Regions from separate parts of the Homo sapiens genome. Here all the other regions are linked to region 1. Evidence: fine-mapped expression QTL. A gene starts in region 1. Each other region holds a variant in brackets. All regions are shown on one strand. Distances are from middle to middle. Region 1 holds the start of USP35 (ubiquitin specific peptidase 35). Region 2 overlaps USP35 (ubiquitin specific peptidase 35). Region 3 overlaps GAB2 (GRB2 associated binding protein 2). Region 4 overlaps ALG8 (ALG8 alpha-1,3-glucosyltransferase).

The links. PIP is the estimated chance that this variant, and not a neighbour inherited with it, causes the effect.
Region 2: its variant is fine-mapped to the expression of USP35 in cerebellar hemisphere (GTEx, PIP above 0.99). The same link has a PIP of 0.9 or more in cerebellum, nucleus accumbens, prefrontal cortex, testis, thyroid and whole blood.
Region 3: its variant is fine-mapped to the expression of USP35 in whole blood (TOPMed, PIP 0.96).
Region 4: its variant is fine-mapped to the expression of USP35 in whole blood (TOPMed, PIP above 0.99).

The regions. Positions count from the first base shown.
Region 1 is chr11:78,185,754-78,190,901 of GRCh38, forward strand. It overlaps USP35 (ubiquitin specific peptidase 35), which reads left to right and starts at 3,166. Exons shown (of 11, transcript NM_020798.4): 1 at 3,166-3,404. KCTD21 (potassium channel tetramerization domain containing 21) reads right to left here and starts at 2,873. Exons shown (of 2, transcript NM_001029859.3): 1 at 2,820-2,873. RefSeq lists silencers at 2,590-2,929, 3,360-3,519.
Region 2 is chr11:78,211,645-78,216,792 of GRCh38, forward strand. USP35 (ubiquitin specific peptidase 35) reads left to right here. Exons shown (of 11, transcript NM_020798.4): 11 at 2,002-3,588. The coding sequence ends at 2,169. GAB2 (GRB2 associated binding protein 2) reads right to left here. Exons shown (of 10, transcript NM_080491.3): 10 at 3,649-5,148. Among named protein-coding and RNA genes, the nearest start is that of USP35, 25 kb to the left of the region's middle. The variant C/CTTAAATAAATAAA (reference allele first, on the strand shown) is at 3,037.
Region 3 is chr11:78,314,451-78,319,598 of GRCh38, forward strand. All of the region lies in intron 1 of GAB2 (GRB2 associated binding protein 2), which reads right to left. It overlaps LOC105369402 (a long non-coding RNA gene), which reads left to right. Exons shown (of 3, transcript XR_950343.4): 2 at 359-455; 3 at 4,374-5,148. Among named protein-coding and RNA genes, the nearest start is that of GAB2, 100 kb to the right of the region's middle. The variant T/C (reference allele first, on the strand shown) is at 2,395.
Region 4 is chr11:78,099,918-78,105,065 of GRCh38, forward strand. It overlaps ALG8 (ALG8 alpha-1,3-glucosyltransferase), which reads right to left. Exons shown (of 13, transcript NM_024079.5): 11 at 4,439-4,536; 12 at 4,063-4,135; 13 at 1,029-1,278. The coding sequence ends at 1,047. Among named protein-coding and RNA genes, the nearest start is that of NDUFC2-KCTD14, 23 kb to the left of the region's middle. RefSeq lists a silencer at 4,986-5,148. The variant G/T (reference allele first, on the strand shown) is at 2,117.

The DNA.
Region 1 (5,148 bases):
GCTAATTTTTGTATTTTTAGTAGAGACGGGGTTTCACCACGTTGGCCAGGCTGGTCTCAAGCTCCTGACCTCAAATGATCCACCCACCTCAGCCTCCCAAAGTGCTGGGATTACAGGCGTGAGCCACCGCGCCCGGCCAGGTCTGCCTATCTTCTGTGCTGTGATTCTGCCTGGAAGAAGATGGCTGTTCAGGCCTTGTTTTTCCTGCCTCATCATGAACCCAGAATCTCTGTAACTCGGCAGGAAAGAAACTCCTGTCATGACTCACTGTGAATGTTGACAAAGAGAGGCCACTCCTGGGCCTCAGAAATGTCAAGGATGGGCAGAAAGAACTGGAGACAGGCCAGGCTCAGTGGCTCATGCCTGTAATCCCAGCACTTGGAAGGCCCAGGTGGGAGGATCGCTTGAGTTCAGGAGTTTGAGACCACCTGGACAACATAATGAGACCTCGTTTCTATAGAGAAAAAAAAAAATTAGCTGGGCATGGTAACACGTGCTTGCAGTCCCAGCTGCACAGGCTGAGGTAGGAGGATCGCTTGAGCCTGGGAGGTCAGGCTGCAGCAAGCCGAGATCACGCCACTGCACTCCAGCTTGGGCAACAGAGTAAGACCCTGTCTCAAAAAAAAAAAAAAAAAAAAAAAAAAAAAAAAAAAAGAAAAGAACTGGAGAGGCTGTGTGGGGTAGGGGCAGACCATGCATGGTATTCGGCATTACCTGGGTTTGCATTTGAATCATCCCCTGCCACTTACTAGCTGTGCAGCCCTGGGCACGTTCCTGGGCAGATGATGATGATCATAACAACAACAAACACTACAACGGCAATAATAATGGCTAACGTTTATTGAGCAGTTACTACCGTGCTAGGCACTCTATACATGTTAATCTCTTTCAATCTCACAGATTAAGTAGATACTATTATATACCTACTTTACAGACCAACCATACTGGGCCCTCTTCGACTTCTGCAATTTGGCATCTGCCATCCCCTCTGCCTGGACCTTGAAGACAAATCCCATGCATCGGCCAGGTCTCTCAGCTGGAATTCATTCCTTCTCCTCTGCATCTGCGGAGAATTTTAGTCTAACCCCTTACCACAGCCAACTTTACTTAAGTAGATGGATGCCTGGCTCCCTTGCTGGGGCTGGGGGTGCCCCTTTCTATATCCACAGAAGCACGTAGAATAGGGGAAGAGGAAGAAATTTCTCTCCTGTTTAGTCAGATCCATTTTCCCCACCTGGATTTTCAAAACTTTTTAATTTTGAAATGCTCTGTTCAATTTTCAATCTGGAATCTAAAGGGATGTGACAAGGCCGAGGTGATTACTTGGGAGTAAATGCAAGGAGAGTTTCCACTGCGTAAGGGAATGGACAGCACGTGGCTGGGTAAATTTCAAAAAAGACAATGCTCAGAGTGAGTACTGTGTTTTCCAGTAAGTGGGAGACTTCCCCACCTTACCCCACCGGAGAAAGGACTCTTTGCCTTGAAGCCCCTAGGACGACTACCCTTTCTTCACCTCCTCTTCCTGACCACCCCACATCAAAGAGCTGCGTCTATAATTCTGTCTTGCCCAGTCCATATCTCTAAGAAATCCGAAGGCTGCTCTATTACCATCACAACCCATAGGGAGGAGAGAAAAGGTGCTTCCTAGACACAGGGACCCCAGAATGAGCTGCGCAAAAGGCAGGAGGAGAGAAAGGTGGGCTGGAAGAAGGAGACCACGGAATCTGGCACGGCAAGGTATTCTTTCATCTGGCGTAGACCTCCAACAACCACTACCATCCCCCAGCCCCTTCCAGAACTTTCCTTCACCTTCTCGGCTCACTCTCACGCTTCACCTTGTGCTTTTCCTCCGGCACCAGCACCCCATTTCAAACCGCTCTCTTCCTATGTCTCCTCCAAACAGTAATTTATAAACACCGTGCTTTCAAATCCATCTCATTTCATCCTCACAGTACTATAGGAGGGCTGCCTTACAGGCTGTCATTCGGAAGGGTTGGGGGGACTGGTCCTGCCAGACAATTTGCGAAGGTCGGGGCATCAAAACTTTTCTTTCCTGCCTCCCACGCCAAGCTAAACCTCTGCCTCCCCGAGTGCAGGGAGAAAAGCAAGGTCTTTGAAGTAAGGAGTCCTGAGTGGTTTTAGGCAAGTCCCTTCGCTTTTCTGAGCCTCACATTCCTCACCTGTCAACCGCTATAGTGACGCCTCTACTTTTCAGGGCGTGGGAGGTCAATGAGATCACTGGTGTGCCGCACTGAACTCGGGGATGGACTCTTTATTTCCAGTCAGTAAAGGGAGGTGTTCTATGCATCACAGGCTTTTGCCCACGCCGCCACAGCGCGGCCGGCCCAGGGCTCTCCAGAGCGGGGCAAGTTCCCTGTCATCTGTGTCTCCGCCCTTCCTTCCCCAATCTCACCCAGGCTGGCCTCATCGGCTTGTTCCGCACCCACTCCCCAGCCCTACAGCCCCCACTCCGACCTGACAAGTGCCCCACCCCCACCTAGAGATCCCGCCTCTCCTTGCCCCACCCACCAAGGACTCCTCCCACAGTCCCGACCCTCATTATCCGGGCTTTTCCGACTATCACCATCCGCCCTTGCTCTCCCAACAGCCCCGCCCCTCTAAGAGCTCTGCCCACTTCGGCTCACCTCGCTCCGAAACGCGCCCCCTCCCCCGCACCACAGGCGATGCCATCCCCATTTCACAGATGGGAATGGCGAGGCTGGGATAGATTAGTCTCATGGTAAGACAGGTGCTCAGTGGGCCCACGTACCCTCGCCGGTAGTCCCCGAGCCCCGCGACCCCGGCCGTGCCGCACCCACCTCCTGCCCTCGCTCTGCAGCCTCTCCCTCCGCGAGCGGCCAGCGCAGCTTTGCGAGGGGGGCGGAGGGTAGGAGCCCAGCCCAGGGGCGTGGCGGTCCGGGGTCTGTGCGCTGCCTTCCGGGACTGGTAGTTCTCTCTGGGCTCCTCGCAGCTCGGCGCGTCGAGAGCGAACTCCATCTCCCAGGAGGCATTGCAGCGAGTTGCTCTGCGCCCCGCCTCGTCCCCGCCGGTGTCCGGCCGGCTGGCCTTAAAGGGGACGCGGTCAGAGTGGCAGCTCGCGGGGTGGCCCCCGCTCCGGCTCCGCCCCATTTCACGCACCTCGCCCCTCCCCATGCTTCATCCCGCAGCCCCGGGGCCGCGCCGCAGAGTCGGGCTTCCTGGATACATAGAGGCTTGTGCCAGGCGGGGTGGGAAGACTGGATTTTGCAGTGGAAGCAGCATCTCTTCCGTCTGGGACCTGGCTGAGGGCGTCCCCACCCTGGGGGGAGCAGAGGACCAGCCCTGACCTAGCCGGGCCCAGCCTCGTCCTGCCCGGCCTGAGCGCCCCGCCCAGCAGCCGGCTCTGGCCCACCGGGGTCCGGGAGGTAAGGGGGTTGGGGGCGTGTGACTGTCTTTGGGGGGCGGTGTCTGCACCCTGGCCTTTCGAGAACCCTGGACTTGCGAGCCCAGGGCTGGGAGTCGGGAGATCTGGGTGCATCCTGGGCCTCCTGGGCCTCACTGTGTGACCTTGGGCGAGTAGCTATTCCTCTCTGGGCATTAATCCCCTCCCTTCATCAATTGTATGTCGAAGTGATCCTGCTCCCTCCCCTTTCAGGTAAGAGGGCATTCGCACCCAGTACCTAGTACATTCGCTTGCTGGCTTTTCGTGGGGCCCTCCAGCTCAAGCGTGGGCTGGGCGCGGGTGCACTGGAGGGAGGGAGGTGGCACAAACTGGGGGGCCCGAGGCCACCATTGCTTGGAATGGGCTTTTCCTATTCTCAGTGTGCTGGGCCCTGGGATACCCTCCCCAACCCCCTCTTACGGCCCTGGCCCTTGCAAACCGGAGACCCTGATGTGTCAGCTTGGTGCCCTTCCTTCCAGAAAGCTTGGGGTGGAGTGCGGCCCTCACAGGTTTGTGAGGGGTGGCCCCGCAGGGATAGGTGTGTGTGGTGGGTTCCTGAGGAGGAATAGCTGCTCCTGCTTTCTTCCCTTCTCTCTCCTCCTTATCCTTTGAGGAAGAGCAGCTGCTTTTTACCAGTGAAACCCTTTTTTCTTTTTCTTTCCAGGAGACAGTTTGGTGGCCCAGACATGGGCCTCCCGGAGTAGGGTGAAGCACTTCTTCCCAGGGTTGCCTTGGGTAGAAGTTCAGTTAAAAAATACCTAGAGAGATGCTGCCATTCAGACACCTGAGGGGCCAGAGATGGAGGGCACCACCTGGTGTCGGGAGGGGCAGCCTGGTACCCCCAAGGAAGCTCTGGCTCCCAGGGGAGTCAAAGGAGGGAGGCTGGCTTCGAGGGTCAGAGAGGGGAGGAAATGTGCTCCTCAGCTCTTAGGTGCTGAGCAGAGGCTGGGAGGGGCTGCTCTGACCTGGAGCAGGGAGAGGTTGAGTAACACCATGAAGCCTTCTTCTCAGGTCCTAGGAGATTCTGTGAGCTTTTGACCTGAAGGCTAACCAGGAACAGATTTTTGTTTTGTTTTGTTTTGTTTTTGTTTTGTGCTTTTTCTTTTGCTTTGGTTGTTTGAACAATTTCTAGAATGGCTAAAGCCTCAGTCCAGTCCAGTGACCTCTGTAGGGGCTTTCTTGACTGATGTTTAAGATTTTCAGGGTTTTTGATATGCAAGACCAGGCCTGGGCAAAGGAGGGGGTGGTGACTGGACCAAAGGTTAGGCCAGTTTCTGGAAGGTACTTTTGTGGTTACATCTTTGGTTTTCTCTCATCTTGCTGTCACATGTCTCTCATGAGTTGCTTGACGCACCTTCACGGACACCTCAGTCCTTGGTTCTGTACTGGGCACTGGGCTCAGAGACGGGGATTGGACCTCTGCCAAGGGAGGTCCCAGCCTGGTGGGAGACAGAGACATGGATTCCAGTTATGCTGCAGAGGGATGAGAATAGCTAAGAGGGCCTTGGAGGCCAGAACTTTAGACACTTGAATTGTGGAGGGAAAAGGAAAGGCTTCCCAGAGGAGAGGGCATGTGAGCTGGGCATTGAAGGGTGAGTCAGAATTTTCCAGGAGAGAAGAGGGAAAAGCCCTTTTTCAGTAGAGGGGACATTGTGCAAAGTAGCAGTCAGGAAAAAGCCCCCTGCTCCAATGTCTGCAGAGTCTCCACTGAACAATGTTGCTTGAGT
Region 2 (5,148 bases), 26 kb after region 1:
TCTGGCTTGCGTGAGATGGTATCTCATTGTGGTTTTGATTTCTCTAATGGTCAGTGATGTTGAATTTTTCTTTCGTACGTTTGTTGGCCACATGAATGAATGTCTTTTGAGAAGTGTCTGTTCATGTCCTTTGCCCACTTTTTAATGGGGTTGTTTTTTTCTTGGACATTTAAGTTCCTTGTAGACTCTGGATATCGGACTTAGGTCAGATGGGTAGTTTGCAAAAATTTTTTTTCATTCTGTAGGTTGTGTCTACTCTGATGATAGTTCCTTGTACTCCGCATAAGCTCTTTAGTTTAAGTGGATCCCATTTGTCATTGTTTGCTTTTGTTGCAATTGCTTTTGATGTTTCCATCATTAAATCTTTGCCTATGCCTATGTCCTGAATGGTATTTCCTAGATTTTCTTCTAGGGGTTTAATACCTTTGGGTTTTACATTTAAGTCTTTAATCCATCGAGTGAATTTTTTGTATAAGGTATAAGGAGGGGGTCGAATGTCAACATTCTGCCTATGGCTAGCCAGTTCTTCCAGCAACATTTATTAAACAGGGAATCTTTTACCCATTGCTTGTTTTTGTCAGGTTTGTTGAAGATGGTTGTAGGTGTGGAGTCTTATTTCTGAGTGAGTTCTCTATTCTGTTCCATTGGTCTATGTGTCTGTTTTTATACCAGTACTATACTACAAGGCTACAGTAAGCAAAACAGCATAGTTTGAAGTCAGGTAGGCATTAGGCTTCCACTTTTGTTCTTTTTGCTTAGGATGGTCTTGGCTATATGGACTTTTTGGCTCCGTATGAATTTTAAAATAGTTTTTTCTAATTCTGTGAATGTGAATGGTAGTTTAACGGGAATAGCATTGAATCTGTTAATTACATTGGGCAGTATGGCCATTTTCATGCTATTGAGTCTTCCTATCTATCTGTGAGCATGGAATGTTTTTCCATTTGTGTCCTCTCCTTCACTTCCCTTGTTAGCTGTATTCCTAGGTATTTTATTCTGTTTGTAGCAGTTGTGAATGGGAGTTTGTTCATGATTTGGCTCCCTGCTTCTTGTTGGTGTATAGGAATGCTAGCAATTTTTGCACATTGGTTTTTGTATGTATCATCTTGAGAGTTGCTGAAGTTGCTTAACAGCTTAAGAAGCTCCTGGGATGAGATAATGACATGATTCTGTATCATCTAGAAAACCCCATTAATGCAGTTAATAAGTGTGCTGAAGGAGGAGTACAGGGACCAGTTGAGTCTGAGGGGGAGGAGGATGCTTCGGGTGTGGGGGGAGGGGGTCCCACTACCCACGTGAGCCTCCTGTGTGACTCCCTAGAGTCAAGGGTGGCACTGGCATACTGAGCAGCTGGAACAGCATGGGCTTTGACCAGTGGGATGGGTGCCAGTGCCTGGAGTTTGTGTTTTGTGCGGGGGAATACAGCAACTGGTGTGGGGACACCAGACCGGGTGTCACCAACATCAACTCCTTCTTCCCCAAGGACACAGCCTATGTGCTGTTTTACCAGCAGCAGCCCAGGGAGGGGCCTGAGGCTGAGTCAGGCTCTCAGGGACAGCTTCTGCCATGCTGTCCAGATGGAGGCAGGGTGGCGGGTAAGGATCGCCATGAGGCTGACGTCCTGGTAGCAGGAGGATGGGCTTTCTCATAGGCAGAGCCCATTCCTCGTGATCATGAGGCCTGCGGACAGGTTCCCGTGTGGTGTGATATGACCCTCGAAGTCCTCAGACCTCTCGGTACCACATTAGGCCCTTGTCAGCTAGTCAGTCACACCCTAGTATCAGCTGGCTCAGGGACTAGAGTTTTTATTGAGAGGAGGGGGTCTTTTGAAGTCTTTTGAAGGTGTCCACCCCGGATATCCTGCCACTGAGCTGCAATGTCTCTGTGTGTCCAGGCCCTGGGGACCTAGAGGAAACATTGAAAGGTGTTGTGCTGGGTAGACTCACTCTGGCTTCAGGGTGTGAATTCTAAGTCTAAGTCTCCTCTCATCTGTGTTCCCAGGAGCAGGAGAAGGAGGCCCGGAGCAGGGCGGCCTACATCTCTGCACTCCCCACATCTCCGCACTGGGGGAGGGGCTTTGATGAAGACAAGGATGAGGATGAAGGCTCTCCAGGGGGCTGCAATCCTGCAGGTGGCAATGGTGGTGACTTCCACAGACTGGTCTTCTAATGTGAACCTGCTGCCAACCTGACCCCTTCCCTCCAGGAGCCAGGTAGGGCCTGAGGGAAGCTGTGGAGGCAGGCCCTACCAAGAGGAAGGATGGTACAGCTCATGGCACCTTAGTCCTCAGCCTGATGAAGGGTACACAGAGATTCTCTCAGATATGGAAGTAAGACCTAAGTCCCTTTCATTGGGGATCAGTCCCATTAAAACTTTACACCCAAGTGTCCTGGTTAACTTGAAGCAGCCGAGATGGGCACACACGGGTCTTTGCCTCCCCCTCCTTCCCTAGCAGGCTCCCCATGCGGGAAGATCTGATGATGTTCAGGAAACAGGCTAGACCTCAGCTCCAATGTTTTGACATCAAGTACTATTTTCCTTCCGACTGCTGTACGGTATAAAGCACAGCAGGATCCAAGCCTTGCACAAAGGGGTGGGGGGGGCAGTGTCTCCTCTGGCTGTCCTGTTTGTTTGTTTCTCATATGGGGGTGGGGGGTACCTGCACTGTCTGTACCTTTCTGAGAAGAACAGAGACCGAGACCTGCCCCCTTACCAAGCGCCACTGCATGGTTTTGGGGGGGGGGGCGGGGGGCTAGCTTCTCACAGCAGGAGGCCTTTGCCCCCACAGCCCCTCCACGCCTGCCTCAGGGCCTGAGAAGCCACCACTTGTATCCCCCTTGTGGTTAGAGTCCTGATTTTACTGCAAAGGTGTTCATGTTCCTTGTGAAGTGTGGGCTCTTAGGAAGCCTGTGGGCTCCTCTGAGCAGTTGGCCTTTGTAGCTGCAACAGCAGCCACCTGCAGGTTGGGTGAAGTGCCCTGACACTGCTGTAGCCCCCTTCTAACTTCTAACCGAAGACAAGACAGACACCCATGTT[C/CTTAAATAAATAAA]ATAAATAAATAAAAGTAAGCCTAAGCAAGAGATTGTTCTTCCTTGGACTCAGGGGCTGTGATGGCCACTGGGTTTTGCTCACGGGGTCTGGGGAGGCCAGGACTCAGCCTGCCCCCCAGTGACGTGTGAGATGCCACAGGGAGCCAAGAGCCCTCTACTGAATCTACTGAAGTGGGGTGTAAGTAAACGTGTGGACTGACTGACTTACTTACCTTACTGAGGGCTGGGTGATGCTGCCCGTGGAGAGGATGCACCTGGGAGGCAGCTCTCAAGCCTTTACCTACCTCCTTCCCCAGGGGCTGCCTGCTGTGATGGTGGTGTGGAGTTTGGGCCCAATGTCACAGACCCTCAAGATGTCACATCTAAGTGACCTGTGAAAGCAGCAGACAGACACGCCCAGAACCCATCTCTAGACGCCTAAGAAAGCTGGATGGGTAAATGCTAGTATGATTTCCACTTTACAACAGACGCTGAGGTAGAGAGCATTTGTTCTTATTCACAGCCAAGAAAAATACCCAATTATTTCCAAATAAAGCAAAAATTGGAACAGACTGGAGTGAGAACGGGTTCCACCACCAAGCCCCTCAAGACAAGATGGACACGGCAGCTGGTTCTGGGGTGCATTTCTAGTGGACTTTATTGTCCTGCTCCAACACCACAGTAGAAAGGGACCTGCAAGCTCCAAGCCTGTACCATGTGTCACCACAGCAAAAACATGACCCACTTGAACACACTCCTGTCCCACCCACCGGATAAATATGTTACAATTTAAAAAAAAGAATACAACAGAATAAATTAATAACTTAAGTGATTAGGCACCAACAGTGATTTGAAAATTAAATGTCAATTTTAAATGGTAACAAGACAAGAACTCAAGACTGGGCTTCCACTAGCCCATTTTCTCTTCCTGACAAACAGTGACAATTCTGCGTGAAATAATTCTAGATTTCAAGACACAAGTAGCCAACAAATACACAACACATGCCACCATAAATCACATGACAGCCTGGATCTCTTGGGGACCCCCTCGGCAGGTACCCCATTGTGGTCCCAGGTCCTAAACAGCAGGGCTAGTCCCAGAAAGACGACCCCCCACGGAAGGGCTTTAGCGCTCCTGAGACCAGTCTGGCTTCCCCTGCATTTTATGAAGGCCCAGATGGGGAAGGAAGAACTCTGGAAATGGGATAGGGGTGCTGGGCCGAGATGTCCCCATGGGAGAAGGGGCCAGAGGGAGGATGAGCTGAGCCCATGCTCCAGTAACTTCAGAATGGTTGTGCTTTTGTCACAGGAATGGGGCATACTTTGTTAACTTCTACATTGGAAACCACTAAAGTCAAGCTAGGAGGGGACTGGGGATAGGTACTGCCCACCCCAATCCCCCAGAAAGAAGTTACAGAGGAGGGAGTCTCCCCTTCAAGCAGCTGAGCACCAGCTGTGGATGGGACCTCAGCGCAGCTAATCCAACCTCCCATTCCACAGACAGGCAGATCAAGGACTTAAGGAGACACCATCTCCCTATTTCTCATCGTTCTCACTTGACTTAACCTTGCAGAAGTGGAGCTGGAAGTGGGTGAAGAAGGCTCCTTGGAGAGCCCCAGGCAGGGGGCCTGTGTGAAGCAGTGCTGAGTGGGAAGGTATCCCCTTTCCGTAGGCTCAGTCCTCTCCAGGCCCCCAGGAGAGGTGGACTTTGACCCATGGATAGGCCAAAGGACCAGTTTTTTCAACTGAGTTGACTCCTTTGTTGGAGGAGGTAGTGGGTGGAGGGTGGGGATATGCTAGATACGGCTGGTAGTTTGGGGCCTGTGAGCCAGAGCTTTGCTTTCAAAAGGTCAATTTCACCTCTCATCCTTCCATCTCTACCCCTACACTTGCACCCGAGGGATTTTGGTAGTTACCAGAATAGGGGGCTGGAAGGAAGCCTCCTGGTAGTTACCAGAATAGGGGGCTGGAAGGAAGCCTCCTGGGAGATTCGATTTGAACACCTCAGTCGCTCTCCGAAGATTCCAGCCAGGTCCACTCACATCATGGCACACTCAGAACATGCTCACATGTTTATGGGAGGCTGCAATAGTCTGGGCCCACTTGTGGCTGCTGCGGGTACAGGGAAGGCA
Region 3 (5,148 bases), 130 kb after region 1:
TCTTGCCTGAAGTCAGTCCCCTAGGTTTAAGTCCCACCTTGATCTTCTGCTAGTTATGTGATTTCAGCCAAACTCCAACTTTGCTGTGCTTTAGTATCTTAATATAATGGAGATAAAACAAGTCTTCCCTGTCATTCACTGAAGGTTACAAGTATAACATGTTATACAGAATATTAAAGTGTCAAGTGTATATAGAAGTACCTTGCTTTCTCCCAGCTAGATTACAATCACTGGTGGACAGAGACCAGGTCACATGCTTACTTTAAATCCCGGAAGGTAAGACTATATTGCATATGTGGAATGGTTATGCAAAGGAACAAAAACTGTCGGTTTAGTCATCTTTTTGACACATTTACAGAACAGCCACCTCTGTGCCACAATGCTACTGGGACGCAGAGGTGAAGAGGTGCCACCACCGTCAAGAGGCCTTGGAGAAAGACCATGGCACATTAAAGGTAAAGTGAATAAAATGAACGTGGTCTGTAAAGGCAGGGCTTGCTATGGGAGCAGTGAGAACTAACATGACTCCATTACAGCTTCACAGTGGCAGCGAGGGAGACAGCAGATAAAGCTCAGAAAACAGGCTGGACACAGACTGTAGAAAAGCTTTCAAAGAGTTTCAGAAGAGACAGCAAACTGAAGGAGCTAATTGAGAGAGTAAGAGAAGGAAGGAGAGTAAAAGGGCAGGGGGGAGGAGGTCTCTGAGTGAATTATAAACACACTTCAAAGTTCTGCTCACGGCTGGCTGTCTATCCCAATCTTATTTTATTTTGTTTTGCTTTTCCTCTCAGTCTATTCCCCTCTTCTTCTCGCATTATTTCAAAATGGCTTTCCCCCCTTTTTAATGTCTTTGAACTGCCAAGGATAGCAAGAAGCCTGCTTTTAGGGGATCCTCAGGAATATTTCACCTTCTGTTTTCTCATCTATAAGGTAATTATAACACATCCTAGGACTATCACACAAATACAAAAGAAATAACAGAACTTTTCAGCAAATGGTGCTGGGAAAACTGGATATCCACATGTAAAAAAACAGCTGGACCCTTATACCATATACAAAAATTAACTCAAAATGGACCAAAGACCTAAATATAAGAATGAAAATGATAAACCTCTCAGAAGAAAACATAGAAAAAATGTTTCATGACAATGGATTTGACAATGTTTTCTTGGATGTGACACCAAAGGTATAGGTAGCAAAACAAAAAATAGATAAATTGGACATCAAAATTAAAACTTTAGTGAATCAAAGGACACAATCAACCAAGTGAAAAGACAATCCACTGAATGGAAGAAAATATTTGCAAATCATATATCTGGTAAAGGATTTGTGATGGTTAATATTAGGTGTCAACTTGATTGGATTGAAGGATGCCTAGATGGCTGGCGAAGTACTGTTTCTGGGTTTATCTGTGAAGGTGCTGCCAGAGGAGGTTGACATTTGAGTCAGTGTACTGAGAAAGGAAGAGTCACCCTTAATATGGTTGGGCACCATCCTACTGCCTGTCAGCATGGCCAGAAGAAAGCAAGCGGAAGAAGGTGGAATAAGCTTGCTTGCTGAGGCTTCTGGCTTCCTTCTCCCCACTCCCCCTCCCCCTGCCATATTGGATGCTTCCTCCCGCTCCTCCTGCCCTTGGACATCAGACTTCAGGTTCTTTGGCCTGACACTGGGACTTGCACGGGGGGCCAGGGGGTGGGTGTCCTGCCTTTGGGACTGACTTAAAGGCTGCACTGTTGTTTTCCCTGGTTTTGAGGCTTTCAGACCCAAACTGAGCCACTACCGGCTTCTCTCTTCCCCAGCTTCCAGATGGCCTATTGTGGGACTTTGCATTATAACTGTGTGAGCCAATTCTTTACTTTCATAATATACATATTATGAAATATGTATAAACTCCCTTTCATATATACATATTATTAGTTCTGTCCCTCTGGAGAACACTGACTAGTACAGGATTATAAGGGGTTAATAACTAGAATATATAAAGAACTACAATAACAACAAAAACAAACAACTTAACTAAAAATTGACAAAGGACTTGAATAGACATCTCTCCAAAGAAGGGATACAAAATGACCAAGAAGCACATGAAAAGATGCTCATGTCACTAATCATTGGGGAAATGCAAATCAAAACAATGAAATACTACCTTGCACCTATTAATATGGCTACTTTAAAAAATAGAAATAAGTGTTGGTGAGAATATGGAGAAACTGGAACCCTTGTGCAATGTTGGTGGGGATATAAAATAGTGCAGCTGCTATAGAAGAGAGTAAGGCAATTCCTCAAAAAATTGAAAATAGAATTACCATATGATCCAGTAATTCTACTTTTGGATACAGACCCCAAAAAACTGAAAGCAGGAACACAAACGGAATATTTTTACACCTATGTTCA[T/C]TGCAGCATTAGTCAGAAGAGCCAAAAGGTGGAAGCTACCCACATGTCACTGGTGGATGAATGGAGATATAAAACACAGTACATGCATACAATGGAATACTATTCAGCCTTAAAAAGGAAGGAAATTCTGACACATGCTACAGCAGGGATGAACCTTAAGGGCATTAAGCTAAGTGAAATAAGCAGTTAGAAAATACCATGTGATTCCACTTATATGACAAAGTTACATGGCAAGCCTAGAGTAGCCAGATTCAGAGAGACAAAAAATACAACAGTGGTTATTAGGCCACCGGAGGAATAGGGCATCAATGTCTAATGGGTATAGTTTCAGTTTGGGAAGCTGAAAGGAGTTTTGGAGATGGATGGTGGTAATGGCTGCACAGCAATATGAATGCATTTAATGTCACTGAACTATACACTTAAAAGTGATTACGATGGGCCGGGCACAGTGGCTCACGCCTGTAATCCCAGCACTTTGGGAGCCAAGGTGGACAGATCGTAAGTTAAGAGATTGAGACCATTCTGGCCAACATGGTGATACCCCATCTCTACTAAAAATACAAAAATTAGCTGGGTGTGGTGGCGGGCAGCTGTAGTCCCAGCCACTCGGGAGGCTGAATCGGGATAATCGCTTGAACCTGGGAGGCGGAGGTTGCAGTGAGCTGAGATGGCGCCACTGCACTCCAGCCTGGCAACAGTGCGAGACTCCGTCTCAAAAAAAAAAAAAAAAAAAAAAAGATGATTATGATGGTAAACTTTATGTTATGTGTATTTTATCACAATCAAAAGAAGAAATAATTTTTTTAAAAAGTAACATATATTAAGCATTCAGCAAAGAACTTGGCAACGAATCTTTGCTCCTTCCTTTCCTCCTGATGCAATCTTTTGTTTCAAGGTTCTTTTTAAGTTACCTAAGGAGATCAGCCCTAAACAGCCCTGCCATTATATCTGGCTGATCATCCCAGGGTGAATTCTTTTCTTTTCTGGGCTTTGGTTTTGTCAACCATTAAAAAACAAGAAAAAGAAGAAGAAGATTAAACTACATTACATTTCCTTTTAACTCTAAAACTAAGAACACATTGAAGGTAAAAGAACTTACAAACAACCTGGCAGGAAGGAAGAAAAAGATATTCTGGAGCATTTATTATGTGTCAAATATTGTACTAAGGGCTGGGGATCCACAAATATGAATATACAAAAGGAAGATAATTCCTGATTTAGGGGAAAATAATAATAGAAATCACAATCTTGTATATAGTTGCTACTAGAGGGTTACAGGAACAGAACTGATTACCTACCAGGGAAAATCCATCAGAGAGTTGATAATTGAGGGAGACTTCTTTTTGAGGAGGGAGATGAGGGATCAGGAGTGAATCTGGTGGAACAGAGGCAGAAGGGCTATCAGGAGGAGGGACCAGCACAAGCACCTTACAGAGTGCATGCACTAGTCAGGGTCCTGGAACAGTCCAGAGAAGCGGTGGGAGCCAGTCAGGAAAGACATTTTGGGATCTGATTGTTAAATGCCAAAAAAAAAAAAAAAAAGCTGTGAAAAGGAGCTTGACTTTCATCCTGAAGGCAGTGGCGGACCACTGACAGTTTTAACTGGAGAGGGATAGGATCCAGTGTGCATAGTAGAAATATCACTTTGGCAACAGCATAGATGAGGATAGATTAAGGGAAACAGGAAGCCCAGACAAAACAGGATAAGGGCCTGAACAACGGCAGTGGCAGTAGGGAAGGAGAGGAAAGAAAGATCCCTTTGCCTCAAGCAGCTCCCACAGATAAAGGCAGGAATGGTACGCAAACTCCAGAAGGTTGGCTCTTGCACACCAGGGACCTTGAACCACATTCTTATTTCTAAACGGTTTCTGACGAATTCTGAATGTCCCCAGGTCCAGGGCAATCACTTAAAGGGAGGAAACTGGCATAAAAGTTAATCTGTTTCAGCTGCTATGTTATCCACCACCCCTTCTCACCAGAAATAATCGGAGGCAGCACTGGAAAAAGGAGCATCTGGATGCAGTAAAGACCCATCCCTTCCCGCACTGGAGCTGTTGGCTCATCCCTGGAAATCACAACAATCAAGAATGGAGAATCGTTCTTTTCATCCCTTCTCACAGCATTATCCCAGCAACCTCATCCCCTAACAATGGTGTGGTCTGTGTTATGTTTTCCCTCCATCACTGCCCCTCCCTGCTGCTGCACAACAGAGGTGCTGTGCCCCAGAGGCCGCTGAGGTTGCAGGCCTCTCAGCCTCTGAAACAAGGCTGTGAGCGTTTGGATGCACCCTCAGAAGGAGCTGCATAAATAATCAGATGAAAAACACCAAACCTTAACTAAAAATGAATTTTTTTTCCTCCATTTTTTCCTCCATTAAACCAGCTAAAAGATTTTCATGACAATTCCCTGTAGTGTGATAAAACAGACACCCTTGCATGTTGCTCTGAACTATTTGTTAGTATTATGTGTTTGGAAAATAATCTGGCAGTATTTCAAATGCCTTAAAAATGTTCATCCCTTTGTGCCCAATAATTCTCATTTCTGGCATCTGACTTTAAGGTAATAATTCAAAGGAAAGAAAAAGATGTATGTATGAAGATATATATTGCAGTACTAGTTGGGGAAAAAAGTGGTAGAGTTTCTGTTCTTTACAGTTTTCTCCCATGTTTTCCTCTCTAACTTACCCTTAGGCTTGGTAACATTCATCTCTATGGCTCTTGATAGAACCAGACATAATGACAGAAACTGGAATTT
Region 4 (5,148 bases), 86 kb before region 1:
AGATCCCCATCTTTGTCTCTGCAATAACAGACCAAAAAGAAGTCTTAGAAAATGGAGTAGACGGAAGAGATGGAATAACTGGATTCCATCTCAGAATGCCATTGACCTTGGAGTCTCTCTGATCTTAGGGGATAATGGGTAAATAAAATGTATGAATTCTGCCTGAGGGCTGAAAAAAAATAGAAATAAAATAAAATGTGTGAAAGTTCCTACTGTTGACTAGATAAACGTTGGCTGAATCTGAATGTGTGGCAGATATTACACAAATTGGGGTCCTGGATAAAAAGCGTATATGAAGTACTCTTAAGGAAGGGAAAGGATAAGAACCAGACTGCAAAAATCACTTCAGTTCCTGCGCATGATGAAAGGTTTAAGTGGCTGCCTTATAAAAACTGCAGTGCTTGCTGTTAGAATAAATGAGCTGCACGAGATATCCTTAAATCAATGTAAAGTAGCTGTGGTTTGTAGTTTCTGCTGCCTGGCCAAACCAGTACCTTAACTACTCCCCTTGGCTTTGTGAGTATTGTCACTGTATAATTTCAAACAAAAAAAATCTCGAACAAGGTGTACAGAATGGGGACAGTACACCATCTGCCTGTGTACACGCCAAGAGGAAAATGTAGGAGCTGGTAACGATCCAGAAGTTTTTTTGTGCATACAAAATAGCATTTCATTTATATTTCCTTAGCACAGGATTCTAATTATGCTTTATATCCTCACAATGGTTAGCATAGGCTACAAATAATTATGCGGTTAATCAGATTCCCTGTTTGGCTTGAGCAAGCACAGCAGTCTGAACGATCTCAGACAATTTTAATAGGGAAAGGTGAGTTTTTTTCAGATGTGTTTCAGTGCTTATGGAGGGCCAGTGGCTTCTCACCATGGTGACAATCCGGTTGCTAGGCTGGGCAAGACCAAGTGTGGAAGAATGGTGCTCTGAACAGTTCTACTGAAACAAATGGCTGATGCCACTGGCAACTTTCTTCAAGTTCTGGTTAATTTCCCATGAAATAATTGCTTGGCACATATCTAAGCAGTTCCTTTATTCATTGTTTCTTTGTCTTGCCAATAGCAGAGTCAATCAATACTGAAACATACAGTTTGAACCAAGCATATGTGATGCCTACTGCACAATACACTGAGGTTAGTAACAAAGGGATGAAGGGGTACTTCACCTTCCAGGAGGTGAAAGGGAATACAAATTCACAGCAGACTTCCAGAGGCCCCAGGCCAAGCAGGTAGAAAGTTTCCATCCAATTAAAAAGAGGTTTTTCTTTTCTGAAGGAAAAAAGAGAGAAAAGTCTGATTTTAGATGAGTCATCCTGGTTTAGCAAACATTTCCTAGCTAAAGCTTCCCCATCTGCACTGTCTTGCTGTCAATTATTATAGCCAAGGCCAGAGTCAAGAGTATATTAAATTTCACATTTAGGGCCAAGTGCAGAGGCTCATGCCTGTAATCCCAGCACTTTGGGAGGCCAAGGCAGGTGGATCACCTGAGGTCAGGAGTTCTAGACTAACCTGGCCAACATGGAGAAACCCCATCTCTACTAAAAATACAAAAATTAGCCGACCAGGGTGGCACAGGCCTGTAATTCCAGCTACTTGGGAGGCTGAGGCAGGAGAACTGCTTTAACTGGGTTGCAGTGAGTCGATATGGCACCACTGCACTCTAGCCTGGGCGACAGAGTGAGACTCTGTCTCAAAAAATAAATAAAAATAAAAAATAAGTTTCACATTTAGAAAAAAATGATAATTATATACGTTATATTATCTCAACAATCTAAATTTACTCCACCATTGACCTATGCTGTTATTTAGCTCAAGCTGCTCAGAGAGAATTAGTTCTGCATTTGAAAGAGGTAAAGGGGTTGGGTGCTGTGACATTGGAATAAGAACATGAGAAACAATATAGAATTGAAGATTTAAAAAAAATTTTCTTTTTGAGATGGAGCGTTGCTCTGTCACCCAGACTGGAGTGCAGTGGTGCAATCTCAGCTTACTGCAACCTCCACCTCCTGGGTTCAAGCGATTCTCTTGCCTCAGCCTCCCAAGTAGCTGGGATTACAGGCGCCTGCCACCATGCCCAGCTAATTTTTGTATTTTCTATAGAGACAAG[G/T]TTTCACCAGATTTTTAAAATATTTTTTATTTTGGTAAAATATATATAACATGAAATTTGCTATTTGTTTAACCATTTTTAAGTATACAGTTTGATGGTATTAAGTAGATCAATAATATGCGCCCATCGCCACTATCCACCTTCAAAATATTTTCGTGACCCCAAACAGAAACTCTGGAACCATTAACAATAACTTCCCATCCCCCTGTTCCCTCAACCTCTAATCTACTTTCTGTCTCTATGTTTGTTTATTCTAGAATTTCCTATCAGTGGAACGATATGATATTTGTTCTATTCTCTCGTTTCTTTCACTTAGCATGTTTTCAAGATTCATTCATGTAGCATGTATTGGAACTTCATTCTTTTCTTTGGCTGAATAATCCACTATATGTATATATCACACTTTATCATGTATTTGTTGATGGACATTGGGTTGTTTCCATCTTTTAGCTAGTATGAATAATGCTACAATGAATACTGATGTACAAGTATCTGTTGAGTCCCTGTTTCCATTCTTTTGGGTATAGGGGTGGAATTGCTGGGTCACATGGCTATAACTGCATTTTAACATAGTTAATTATATAAGTTTTTATGGACACAGTTATGAACCATAAGCAAGCTTTAAAAAATTACAGTTGGCCGGGCATGGTGGCTCACACCTGTAATGCCAGCACTTTGGGAGGCCAAGGACGGTGGATCACCTGAGGTCAGGAGTTTGAGACCAGCCTGACCAACATGGAGAAACCCATCTCTACTAAAAATACAAAATCAGCTGGGTGTGGTGGCGCATGCTTGTAATCCTAGCTGCTAGGGAGGCTGAGGCAGGAGAATCGCTTGAACCTGGGAGGCGGAGGTTTCAGTTAGCTGAGATCGTGCCATTGCACTCCAGCCTGGGCAACAAGGGTGAAACTCCGTCTCAAAAAAAAAAAAAAAAAATTATAGTTAACATTACATACAGTTTAGAAGAGAAAAAGTTTCCATCTATAATTCTGTAGTAAAATTTGTACATAGTTGGGTGCGGTGGCTCAACGCCTGTAATCCCAGCACTTTGGGAGGCCGAGGTGGGTGGATCACCTGAGGTTGGGAGTTCAAGACCAGCCTGACCAACACAGAGAAACCCCATCTCTAATAAAAATACAAAATTAGCCGGGCACAGCAGCTCACGCCTGTACTTCCAGCACTATGGGAGGCCAAGGTAAGTGGATCACCTGACGTCAGGAGCTCGAGAGCAGCCTGGCCAACATGGTGAAACCCCACCTCTACTAAAAATATAAAAAATTAGCCAGGTGTGGTAGTGATGCATACCTATAATCTCAGCTACTCAGGAGGCTGAGGCTGGAGAATCGCTTGAACCCAGGAGGCGGAAGTTGCAGTGAGTGGAGATCGCGCCACTGCACTCCAGCCTGGGCGACAAGAGTGAAACTCCGTCTCCAAAAAAAAAAAAATTAGCTGGGCATGGTGGCGCATGCCTGTAATCCCAGTAACTTGGGAGGCTGAGGCAGGAGAATAGCTTGAACCCGGTAGGCGGAGGGTGTGGTGAGCCGAGATCACGCCATTGCCCTCCAGCCTGGGCAACAAGAGCAAAACTCCGTCTCAAAAAAACGAACAAAAAAAATTTGTACATAGTATCTTTTAGTTTTTTCCATATCTATCTGTATTTAATAGTTTTATTCATAAAGCATATTTTACATTCAGTTTTTGAGTTTTCATATAGGATTTTAATTTAAGTAGTCCTCCTCAAATACTCCCCCAAACTAAAGACACAAACTATGTTGTCTCGACTGAGTGATGGGATTGAGTGATTTCTCCCTCTATTTACCAATTTTTTTTGTAATGTTGTCATATTACTGTTATAACTTAAAAATAAAATTTAAAGAGCTTATTTGACCACTTAGGTGTAAACATTTCACAAGAGTAAGTATAATTTTAAACATTTTTTTGATTACCTGAATAAAGTCTTCAGTGACGAAATACTATATATGGTGAATAGTAACATGAGTAAGATTTTAATGGGAAGTTCTGTTAAAAGAATAGAAAAAAAAAGATAATTTAGCTGATGACAGAAAGACTTATGATGCTGAAAGTAATATAAGCACACTGACACAGCTATATAGTGCTAATAATACTTTTTAAGTTTAATTTTACATTTTTGTGACATCTAGAGATGCTGAGAATTACAGGAAATTGGAGGTTTTATTTAAGAGGATGAATGATCTCTATCCAAGAGATTTTAGAGTTGTTTAAATTAGATGTATTAATCTGTGGGCCTCGATGAAAAGGTTGTGATAGTCAAATATATTTTTCTCAGAAGACGCTGTTTACCTGGTGCAGTGAAGAGCAGAGGAAAGAGGGAATAATGTCCTGTTGTGGTCAGAATCAGAAAAATCGAAGCGTCTCCTGCTTTTCCCACAGACAAAAGGCTAAAAATAAAAATAATTTCTTAAAACAACAACTGTTATTACACTTGCAAATAGCTTAAATAAACTGCATCTCCTATTACATTAGAACTGGCTGAGGCATAGAAGAACATGCTGATTTTGGCACAAGTTCAATTTAGTTGAGAATATTAATTTTTTAGTAGGAAATTTTAAGCAATCAATAGCATGTATCAAACTGAATCAGGGGTATCGTAAAAGAATCTTGCTTCTGGCCGGGGACAGTGGCTCATGCCTTTAATCCCAGCACTTTGGGAGGCCGAGGCGGGAGGATCACCTGAGGTCAGGAATTCAAGAGCAGCCTGGCCAACATGGTGAAACCCTGTCTCTGCTAAAAATACAAAAATTAGCTGGGCATGGTGGCGGGTGCTTGTAATCCCAGCTACTCAGGAGGCTGAGGCAGGAGAATTGCTTGAACCTGGGAGGCAGAGGATGCAGTGAGCCGAGATCGCGCCACTGCACTCCAGCCTGGGCAACAGAGCGAGACTCTGTCTCAAAAAAAAAAAAAAAAGAATCTTGCTTCCCTGAGTAATTGCCTTCTCCAAAGACAGGAATGTTGTGGGATTGGGAGCTGCCTAGTGGTGGCAGTCAGGGAAA